2 separate regions of the Homo sapiens genome follow, and region 2 is linked to region 1. The links come from fine-mapping of genetic effects on gene expression. A gene starts in region 1. The other region holds a variant in brackets. All regions are shown on one strand. Distances are from middle to middle.

Region 1 (5,389 bases):
GCTTAGAAATAGTCAGCATTTTGTCACACGTCAAAGTGCTGAGAAGGTGATGCCTCTGACGCCACACGGGGAAGACAATGAGAGCTTTGTGTTTGGGCCCCTCCTCCATCTCGCCCCTGTGTCTCCTCTTTTGGCTGGTTCTGATTTGAATGCTTTTGTTATGATAAAACTGTGGCCTTACGTATAGCACTCTCCTGAGTTCTGTCAGTCATCCTAGTGCATTCTGGAACCTGAGGGGTAGTGGAAACTCCCAGATTTGCAGCCAGTCAGCAGTGAGGGTGGGCTGGGAACCCCTGAATGTGCAGCTGGCGTCTGAAGCAAGGGCAGTGTTGTGGGGGACCATACCCCTCACCTGTGAGGTGTGGCTCATCTCAGGTGGTTTGGCATCTGAAGCCACTGCATTTAGTTTGGTAACCTTGCTGCCCAGTCCCAATGGAAGGATCCTAAATATGGTCTAAGGACCTCCTGATACAATTATCCAGATTCTCTCCTTCACAGAACTTGAGGCACTGCGATAAGATCCAAAACTATATATAGACAGTGGAATACTATACAGCCTTAAAAAAGAAGGAAACGCTGTCATTCACCACAACATGGATGAACCTGGAGGACATTATGCTAAGTGAAAAAATCCAGGCACAGACAGACAAATACCACATGATCTCACGCATATGTGAAATATAAAAAAGCCAAACTCAGGGAGGCAGAGAGTAGGATGATGGTCACCAGGGGCTGGGAGGGTGGTGATCAGGAAGATGTTGGTCAAAGGATATAAAATTTCAACTGGGAGGAGTTAAGTTAAAGAGAGCCATTGTACGACATGGTGACAACAGTTGATATCAATGTCTTGTATACTTAAAAATCATGAAGACAGGCCAGGCGCAGTGGCTCACACCTGTAATCCCAGCACTTTGCAGGGGCTGAGGTGGGTAGATCACCTGAGGTCAGGAGTTCGAGACCAGCCTGGCCAACATGGTAAAACCCTGTCTCTATTAAAAATACAAAAATTAGCTGGGCGTGGTGGCAGGCACCTGTAATCCCAGCTACTCGGGAGGCTGAGGCAGGAGAATTGCTTGAGCTCAGGAGGCAGAGGTTGCAGTGAGCTGAGACTGCGCCATTGCACTCCAGTCTGGGCAACAGAGCAAGACTCTATCTCAAAATAAATAAATAAATCACAGAGTAGATTTTAAATGTTCTTACCAAAAATAAATATGTGAAGTATTGTATAAGTAGCTTGATGTAGCAATTCCATAACATGCACATTTCAAAACATTATATCATACAGCACAAATATGTGCAATACTTATTTGTCAATTTAATAATAATAATAATAAGGGAAGAAAAGATCCAAAACAGAGGCAAAACCTTGGCCGGGCATGGTGGTTCACGCCTATAATCCCAGCACTTTGGGAGGCTGAGGTGGGTGGATCATTTTGAGGCCAGGAGTTCGACACCAGCCTAGCCAACATGGTGAAACCCCATCTCTACTAAAAAAAAAAAAAAAATACAGAAATTAGCCAGGCGTGGTGGCATGTGCCTGTAATCCCAGCTACTCGGGAAGCTGAGGCTGGAGAATGCCTTGAGCCCAGGAGATCAAGGCTACAGTAAGCTATGATCACCACTGCACTCCAGCCTGGGTGACAGAGTATGGGGGCAGGGGGTGGTGAGGGGGGGGCGGGGAAGTGGAACAGAGGCAAAACCTTAGCAACACACATTTTTAGATGATCTTCCAGAATAAATTCATAGGGAGGCCCAGGCACAGTGGCTCACGCCTGTAATCCCAGCACTTTGGGAGGCCGAGGCAGGCGGATCACGAGGTCAGGAGATGGAGACCATCCTGGCTAACACGGTGAAACCCCGTCTCTACTAAAAATACAAAAAATTAGCCGGGCGTGGTGGCAGGTGCCTGTAGTCCCAGCTACTCGGGGAGGCTGAGGCAGGAGAACGGCATGAACCCAGGAGGCGGAGCTTGCAGTGAACTAAGATCACGCCACTGCACTCCAGCCTGGGTGACAGAGCAAGATTCCATCTCAAAAAAAAAAAAAAAAAAAAGAAATTCATAGGGAAAAGAAGGTCAGAGACCAAGGGAAGGGAAGGTTCTGGGAGAAAAGCAGGGGGCAGGCAGGGCCCAAGAATCCTGCTGCCCATGAGCCCTTACTGGGAGGTGGGGTGGCCTTGCACAGGGCCCAGGCACCTGAGTGAGTGGTGGGGTCCTTACGTTCACTGCTGGGGTGAGGCAATGAGCACCTTATTGTGTCCACATGAATTCAATAAAAAACAAGCAGGGCGGGTGGTGGGGCACTGACTAGGAGGGCTGATTTGTAAGTTGGTAAGACTGTAGCTCTTTTTCCTAATTAGCTGAGGATGTGTTTAGGTTCCATTCAAAAAGTGGGCATTCCTGGCCAGGCATGGTGGCTCACACCTGTAATCTCAGAGCTTTGGGAGACTGAGGTAGGAGGATCACTTGAGCCCAGGAATTTGAGATGAGCCTAGGCAACATAGTGAGACTCTTATCTCTATCAAAAAATAAAAATAAAAATGAGCCAGGCATGGTGCGGTGGCACGCACCTACTGCTAGGGGGGCTGAGGTGGGAGGATCACTTGAGCCTGGGAGGTTGAGGCTGCAGTGATCCCTGATCACAACATTGCATTTCAGCCTGGGTGACAGAGTGAGACCCTGTCTCAGAAAAAAAAAAAAAAAAGTCATTCCTGAAACCTCAGAATAGACCTACCTTGCCAAGGGCTTCCTTATGGGTAAGGACCTTATGGACCTGCTGGGACCCAAACTAGGCCTCACCTGATACGACCTGTCCTTCTCAAAACACCTAAACTTGGGAGAACATTGTCCCCCAGTGCTGGGGTAGGAGAGTCTGCCTGTTATTCTGCCTCTATGCAGAGAAGGAGCCCCAGATCAGCTTTTCCATGACAGGACAGTTTCCAAGATGCCACCTGTACTTGGAAGAAGCCAGGTTAAAATACTTTTCAAGTAAAACTTTCTTGATATTACTCTATCTTTCCCCAGGAGGACTGCATTACAACAAATTCGGACACCTGTGGCCTCTCCCTTCTATGCAAAGCAAAAAGCCAGCAGCAGCCCCAAGCTGATAAGATTAATCTAAAGAGCAAATTATGGTGTAATTTCCTATGCTGAAACTTTGTAGTTAATTTTTTAAAAAGGTTTCATTTTCCTATTGGTCTGATTTCACAGGAACATTTTACCTGTTTGTGAGGCATTTTTTCTCCTGGAAGAGAGGTGCTGATTGGCCCCAAGTGACTGACAATCTGGTGTAACGAAAATTTCCAATGTAAACTCATTTTCCCTCGGTTTCAGCAATTTTAAATCTATATATAGAGATATCTTTGTCAGCATTGCATCGTTAGCTTCTCCTGATAAACTAATTGCCTCACATTGTCACTGCAAATCGACACCTATTAATGGGTCTCACCTCCCAACTGCTTCCCCCTCTGTTCTTCCTGCTAGCATGTGCCGGCAACTTTGTCCACGGACACAAGTGCGATATCACCTTACAGGAGATCATCAAAACTTTGAACAGCCTCACAGAGCAGAAGGTGAGTACCTATCTGGCACCATCTCTCCAGATGTTCTGGTGATGCTCTCAGTATTTCTAGGCATGAAAACGTTAACAGCTGCTAGAGAAGTTGGAACTGGTGGTTGGTGGCAGTCCAGGGCACACAGCGAGGCTTCTCCCCTGCCACTCTTTTTTCTGAGGGTTTGTAGGAAGTTTCCTCAGTTGGAGGGAGTGAGAGCTGCTCATCAAGGACTTCTCTGTCCGGTTGGAGGTTAACTCTGTCTCTTGCTCTCTCATTTCTGCCTGGACCAAGACTCTGTGCACCGAGTTGACCGTAACAGACATCTTTGCTGCCTCCAAGGTAAGAAGCCGTCCCACGGTCTGTTTTAGCAAATGGGGAGATCCATCCCCAAATGTCTGAACAAGAAACTTGTCTAATGGAAAACGAGCGGGCCCAAATTAACTCTAAGGTGTTAGATGTTTTCAAAGAACGAGAAGTCTGATCTTTACTCTTAAGCATGTTTTGGTCTTTCTGGTTTCACTTGATTTAGAAGACATGTAATAGAAAGCTTACATGCTGTAGTCCTGACTCAGATCCTGGTCAAAGAAAAGCCCTCTTGGGTTTTACTTAGCTTTGGCATAGTGCCTGGAACGTAGGAGGCACTCAATAAATGCCTGTTGAATGAGAGAATTTTTCTGGCCCATACATTTCTGAAAAACCAAATACTCTCACAGAAACAGATATTGAGATGACAGGTTGAGGGAGCTTTCATTTTGTCTAAGAGACTTCCTATGGCAACAGAAAAGGTATCGCCAGAGCCCCTCCTCTTCCACAGCCTGGCCACCTAACAGCCCTCTGGGTTCCGGGGCTGGCCGTCCAGAGCTCCTCAGCTTGCTCTGGCCGGCCGAACTCCCCTCCAGCTCGGTCTGGAACCATCCTGCTGGGCAGCGTCCAGCACATCCCTGCTTCGGGCTGCCTGGGCACCTCGCCTCTCTGCCTCCTGTGCTGCCTCACCCCCACCCCTCTATCTGTAGTGGGAGGAGATAGATTTGACAGCTGATAGTGCATTTTCTCTGACAAACACATGACTACAGCCGTATCAATAGTTTTGTGCATTTCAGTTCCTGTTTTCATGGAAACACACGGCTGAGAATGAAAGCCCCAAAGCCTCAATTTCACAGTGGTCTCCTAACTACCTGCTTTCCATGCAAACTAGGGAGATGATATGGCCAGGAGTGAAGCCCTGTGTGTTGGGCAGGGTCACACTCCAGCACCCAGACCATAGAACAGGGCCCATCCTGCTTCATGAGGGAAACTGCTCTTCGGGCCTTTAGCTGGACTATCTCATTTCATTAGTTATCCCGGGAGTCCGATACAGGATGAGATTCTGAAGGGCAAATACACACTTTTTTTTTTTTTTGAGATAGGGTCTTGTTCTGTCACCCAGGCTGGAGTGCAGTGGTGCGATTTCAGCTCATAGCAGCCTCCACCTCCCAGGCTCAAGCTATCTTCCTACCTCAGCCTCCCAAGTAGCCGGGACGACAGGTGTGCACCACCACGCCTGGCTAATTTTTGTATTTTTTTGTAGAGATGGAGTCTTGCCATTTTGCCCAGGCTTGTCTCGAACTTCTGGGCTCAAGCAATCCGTCCACCTCGGCCTCTCAAAGTGCTGGGATTAGCCACTGCACCTGGGCAACAGTTTATGTGTGTGTGTGTGTGTGTGTGTGTGTGTATATATGTGTGTGTGTATATATATGTGTGTATGTATATATGTGTATGTATATGTGTGTGTGTGTGTGTGTGTGTGTGTATAAAATCTCCAAGTCCATCCAACCGAGATGGCTCCTACTAGAAGCCA
Region 2 (5,389 bases), 40 kb after region 1:
GGGTGAAACCCCGTCTCTACTAAAAATACAAAAAATTAGCCGGGCGAGGTGGCATTTGCCTATAGTCCCAGCTACTCGGGAGGCTGAGGCAGGAGAATCGCTTCAACCTGGGAGGTGGAGGTTGCAGTGAGCCGAGATCGCGCCACTGCACTCCAGCCTGGGCGACAGAATGAGACTCCGTCTCAAAACAAACAAACAAACAAACAAACAAAAAAACTTAGGTTCCTAACACAGATGTAAGTCCCTACATAAAATTAAAACACACAGGAAATTTTAAAATGGCATACCCAGTATTATAGAGTCTTACAATTCTAAATTCTAAAAAAACAGAACATATATTCAAAGTCAGCTATAAACGGATCAATACAGGAGAAAAAATGCAAAGTTAACCAGGTAAATGGCATACATCTTCTGTTCTAATTGTTATCTAATATATTAAACAGATAACGGCAAAATAAAAGTCATGCACTCTACCACCTTGTGAAACCACCTAATTTCTACAAATCAGATTACTAAACAGAACTTACCCCTTCTTTTTTTCCTTTTCTCTCCATCTTCTCCAACCTCACCCTCTTCATCATCATCTTCCTCTGACCCACTGATATCAGAGCCTGATATTTCTTCTCCTTGGACAGAAATTTAATACAATGTTTTTTATCCTGTACGAAGTCATTAGCTATTTAGGAAATACCTATATCAGCTTTCTTCCTCAGATTTTTGTTACTGCAAACAACAAATTTAAATACTATTTAAATGCTCCTAGAAAGTATAACAGATATGCCAATCTCAGACACAGATGAGATATCCAAAAAGACTTTATTTTTAAAGTCTCTAAAGAGAAGTTAAATTCTGACCCACTTAAAATTTCAAACCATTCTGGCTAGGCAAGGTGGCGCACGCCTGTAATCCCAGCACTTTAAGAGGCTGAGGCAGGCAGATCACTTGAGGCCAAGAGTTTGAGACCAGCCTGGCCAACATGGCAAAACCCCATCTCTACTAAAAATACAAAAATTAGCTGGGCTTGGTGGCATGCACCTGTAATCCCAGCTACTTGGGAGGCTGAGGCAGGAGAATCACTTGAACCCAGGAGGCAGAGGTTGCAGTGAGCCGAGATGGCACCACTGTACTCCAGCCTCAACAACAGAGTGACTCTGTCTCAAAAAAAAAAATAAAAATATTCAAATCATTTCTTTATGTATAATTTTAAATATATATATAAATTATGTGGTAGAGTTACTAATTCAGTCTTTTAAAAATGTGATCACTTTTGAGGAACAATTTCTTCTAAAACAGCTTCCTGTTTAAGATTTCAAATAATTCATTCAATCTGTATTTTTAAGAGACACAGAACTGTCATGTAACAATGATCCCACTTTTAGGACTGTATCACAAGATATTTTCAAAAAAAGAAGTGCTTATTTGTACAAAGACAGTGTTAACTACACATTAACTTAAAGATAAAAAACAAAAAAGGAATGATGAAGCCAATAAAACAGATCAGCACTATATCATCTTCAAATTAGCTATTTTTAAATGCCACTGTTTACATATGAAATGTCTAACAAAATAAAATAGAGGAGAAAAAAGTAAAATATACTCTAATCACAACCAGGTAATAATTGTACCTGTAAGTACAAGATGGAAAGGAACACAGAGTCTTGGGAGAAGAAATTTCTGAAAAATATTTTTTTCTTCGGGCTTAGAAACAATGACATCTTGGTAGTAATGAGCACAGCTAGTGCCCAAAACTGGGTTTCTAAATACCATTCTCCTACAGAAGGGACCAGAGAGAAGTGAATGATTCTAAGATTGGGCAAGGAAGACACAAGATAAACCTAAAACCTTTTGTAGTGCCAAAAAGTAATCAAATGCTCAAAAAAACTGATGAGCACATGCTGAAAGAATACAGGAACTACTCTGAAGGATCTCATAATAGCCAAAGCTGGAACAATTCAATGAACAAAATAAATAATGATAACACTGGATTATAATCCATGATCTAAATAAGATAAATACTTGAATAAATAAACAAATGGGAATGAAGGGGCTGTTCTTCCATACAATAGAATCCTAAACACTAAACAAGGAAGAAATGATGAGAATAGAAAATAACATTGAGCAAATGCCACAGGATTATTGTTGCAGACAAGAACTATTGATGAATACTAAAAATAGTAGAAGAAAGTATGACAAGAAACAGGACCTTTGCAGTCTCAAAGTATCCCCCACAAGATACATGTTAATTACGAATGGAAACATAAAACAATAGATTTGCAGTGGAGAAACTTTGCAGGGTCATTATAAAAGAAAAGTAGACAAACCCAAATTAATGAACATTCAACAAATATATGACCAGTACTCTTCAAAAATGTCAAGATCAAGAAAGACTGGGGAATTAGACTGAAGAACAAGTGTGCTAGACATCGTCATTAAAAAGGCATGACATGGCCGGGCATGGTGGCTCACGCCTGTAGTCCCAGCACTTTGAGATGCCGAGGCAGGCAGATCACGAGGTCAGAGGATAAAGACCATCCTGGCAAACATGGTGAAACCCTGTCTCTACTAAAAATACGAAAATTAGCTGGGCGAGGTGGCATGTGCCTGTAGTCCCAGCTACTCAGGAGGTTGAGGCAGGAGAATCGCTTGAACAGGGAGGCAGAGGTTGCAGTAAGCTGAGACTGTGCCACTGAATTCCAGCCTGGCAACAGAGCGAGACTCTGTCTCAAAACAAAAAACAAACAACAACAACAACAACAACAACAAAACAAAGAAAGCATGACAAATAAATGCAGTGTGTGATCCTGGATTGTATCCTGGACCAGGAAAAAGAGGCACTGGAAGGAAAACTGGCCAAATTTGAATAAAGTCCACAGATTAGTTAATAAGACTATATCAATGTAAATCTCCTGGTTTCAATAACTGTTGTATGCTTATAAAA[A/G]ATGTTAACATGAGGTGAAGCTGGGTGAAGGGTAGATAGGAACTCTCCATATCATGTTTGCAAGTTGCATATAGCCTACAATAATTTTTAAGTTTAAAAATTATTATTTTAATGCTATTGCCTACTTTTTTATTGTTGATATGATCAACTCCATTAACTAGATTATAAAAAGAAATGTCATAAGAGCAAAAATGAACTGAAATGTATTAACAACAGTATTATCATAGAATCCAGCAATTCCATTGCTGGGTACATACCCCAAAAATGGTAAAACAAGAATTCAAACAGGTATTAGTATACCCACGTTCATAGCAGCATTATTCACAATAGCCAAAAGGTGGAAAGAACCAACTGTCCATTGGTGGATGAATGGATAACAAAATGTAGTATATACACAATGGAATGTTATTCAGAATTAAAAAGAAGTCCTGATACATTCTACAACACGGATGACCCTTGAAGGCATTATACTAAATGAAATAAGCCAGTCACAAAAAGACAAATGCTGTATTTCACTTTCTTTTTTTTTTTTTTTTTTTTTTTTGAGATGGGAGTCTCACTCTGCCACCCAGGCTGGAGTGCAGTGGCATAATCTCGGCTCATTGCCACCTCCACCTTCCAGGTTCAAGTGATCCTCCTGCCTCAGCCTCCCAAGTAGCTGGGATTACAGGCGAGAGCCACCATGCCCAGCTAATTTTTGTATTTTCAGTAAAGATGGGGTTTCACCGTGTTGGCCAGGCTGGTCTCGAACTCCTGACCTCAACTGATCCACCCGCCTCGGCCTCACAAAGTGCTGGGATTACAAGCGTGAGCCACTGCGCCCCACCAATTCCGCTTTCGTAAGATACCCAGAGCAGTCAAATTCATAGACAAAGCAGAATGGTTGTTGGCCAGGAACTAGGGGAAGGGAGGAATGGGTACATACTGTTTTTAATGAGTACAAAGTTTCAATTTTGCAAGAAGAAAACTGAAGACGGATAACTGCAGAACAATGTGAATGTAATGCCACAGAAATGTAGACTTAAATGTGATTAAAATGGTAAACTTTATGTTATGCAAGTTTAACCACAATTTTTTAAAAAGGAATAAAATTCAGGCACTTGCTACAATATGGATGAACCTTCAACGTTCTGTTAAGTGAAATAAGCCAGTCACAAGTAGATACTCCATGATTTTACTTATATGAGGTACCTAGAATAGTCAAATTCATAGAGACCGAAAGTAGAATAGTGGTTACCAGAGACTGGGGGAGAAAAGAATAGGAAGTTACTACTTAAATGGGCACAGCATTTCTGTTTGGGATGATGAAAAATTTCTAGAAATGAATAGTGGTGACAGTTGCACAACAATGCGAATATACTTGATGCCACTAACTGTACACTTAACTAACAATGGTTACAATGATAAATTTTATGTCATGTATATTTTACCACAACAAAAAAATGTAAAACATAAAGTCAGCAAAATAAAAGTATGCACTCACCGTTAACATCGCTAAGAAATTAAAAATCTTTAAAACATACTGGCTATAAATACCACCTAGTGGTCACATTTAAAACACCAAATTTCATTATCTAACAGTTCTCTTACTGCTTTTCCTCAATAACTACTTGTTTACTAAATAAGTACCCTCTCTAAACATTTGTGATGCTGGCGTCTCTGAATTTCACCTCTGATCTAGTCAGTCTTCTCACAGACTACAAAGGTGCTTTGAAACCAAAGCCCTGTTTACGTGGTTCGCGAAGGAGCTCTGTACCAATCAGAAAGGATCTGTTTCTCGCATTAAGGTGCAAGGACTCACTCAGCACTTAATGACTGGGAAGCGTCTCACTCTCATAAATAAGATCTTCAAATTTTCCAACTTTCTAGCATGATATTGTTAGAAAAGAATTTCCAAAATACAATCTCATGTTCAAATTTAGGTATGAAAGGATATTTTAAAGGTCATGCAATGCATTTTTCCTTATAGCAAACTTGGTTTACTCATGACTGTCTAATATCTTGCTTTACTTCAAACAATAGTTAGTTGATATTGATTGCAATGCCAGAATTCTGGTCATTTTCACCTAAATACATACATTGCAGAATTTGCTCTTATACAGAGACAAATAAACATTCATTCCTTAAAAAGTGGTCATATGAAATCTACAAAACATCATGCAAATGTTTTTAAAAAACCACATACACAAATATTATGTAATTTTACTTAAGCTTAATATGAAAATGCGAAAGTATGTAAGTACCAAGTCACTTTCTAGAAATATTCATTTAACTACCAATGTTAGAGGCTCAAAAAAGGTTTAATAGAGGGCTTTTGTTAGAACAGTTAGTGGTTCAACAATGTATTTTTAGCCAACATAAAGATTAATATTTTGAGGAAAAGCTACCTTCTTCAAGCTTCTTTTTCAGTTCTTCTATTTCTTTCTGGAACTGACGCAGCAAAGCATCCTT

Which allele goes with the higher level. Alleles are on the strand shown, and positions count from the first base shown. SD is a standard deviation of normalised expression in the study named.
With allele G in place of A in region 2, the expression in coronary artery of the gene that starts at base 3,374 in region 1 is higher (moderate effect, 0.48 SD a copy in GTEx).

Evidence for each region. PIP is the estimated chance that this variant, and not a neighbour inherited with it, causes the effect. A credible set is the group of variants that fine-mapping cannot tell apart.
Region 2: its variant is the best candidate, but not a certain one, in a credible set for the expression of IL4 in coronary artery (GTEx, PIP 0.58).

What each region holds. Positions count from the first base shown.
Region 1 is chr5:132,670,616-132,676,004 of GRCh38, forward strand. It overlaps IL4 (interleukin 4), which reads left to right and starts at 3,374. Exons shown (of 4, transcript NM_000589.4): 1 at 3,374-3,570; 2 at 3,844-3,891. The coding sequence starts at 3,436.
Region 2 is chr5:132,710,432-132,715,820 of GRCh38, forward strand. KIF3A (kinesin family member 3A) reads right to left here. Exons shown (of 19, transcript NM_001300791.2): 8 at 5,326-5,389; 9 at 528-626. Among named protein-coding and RNA genes, the nearest start is that of KIF3A, 24 kb to the right of the region's middle. The variant A/G (reference allele first, on the strand shown) is at 2,939.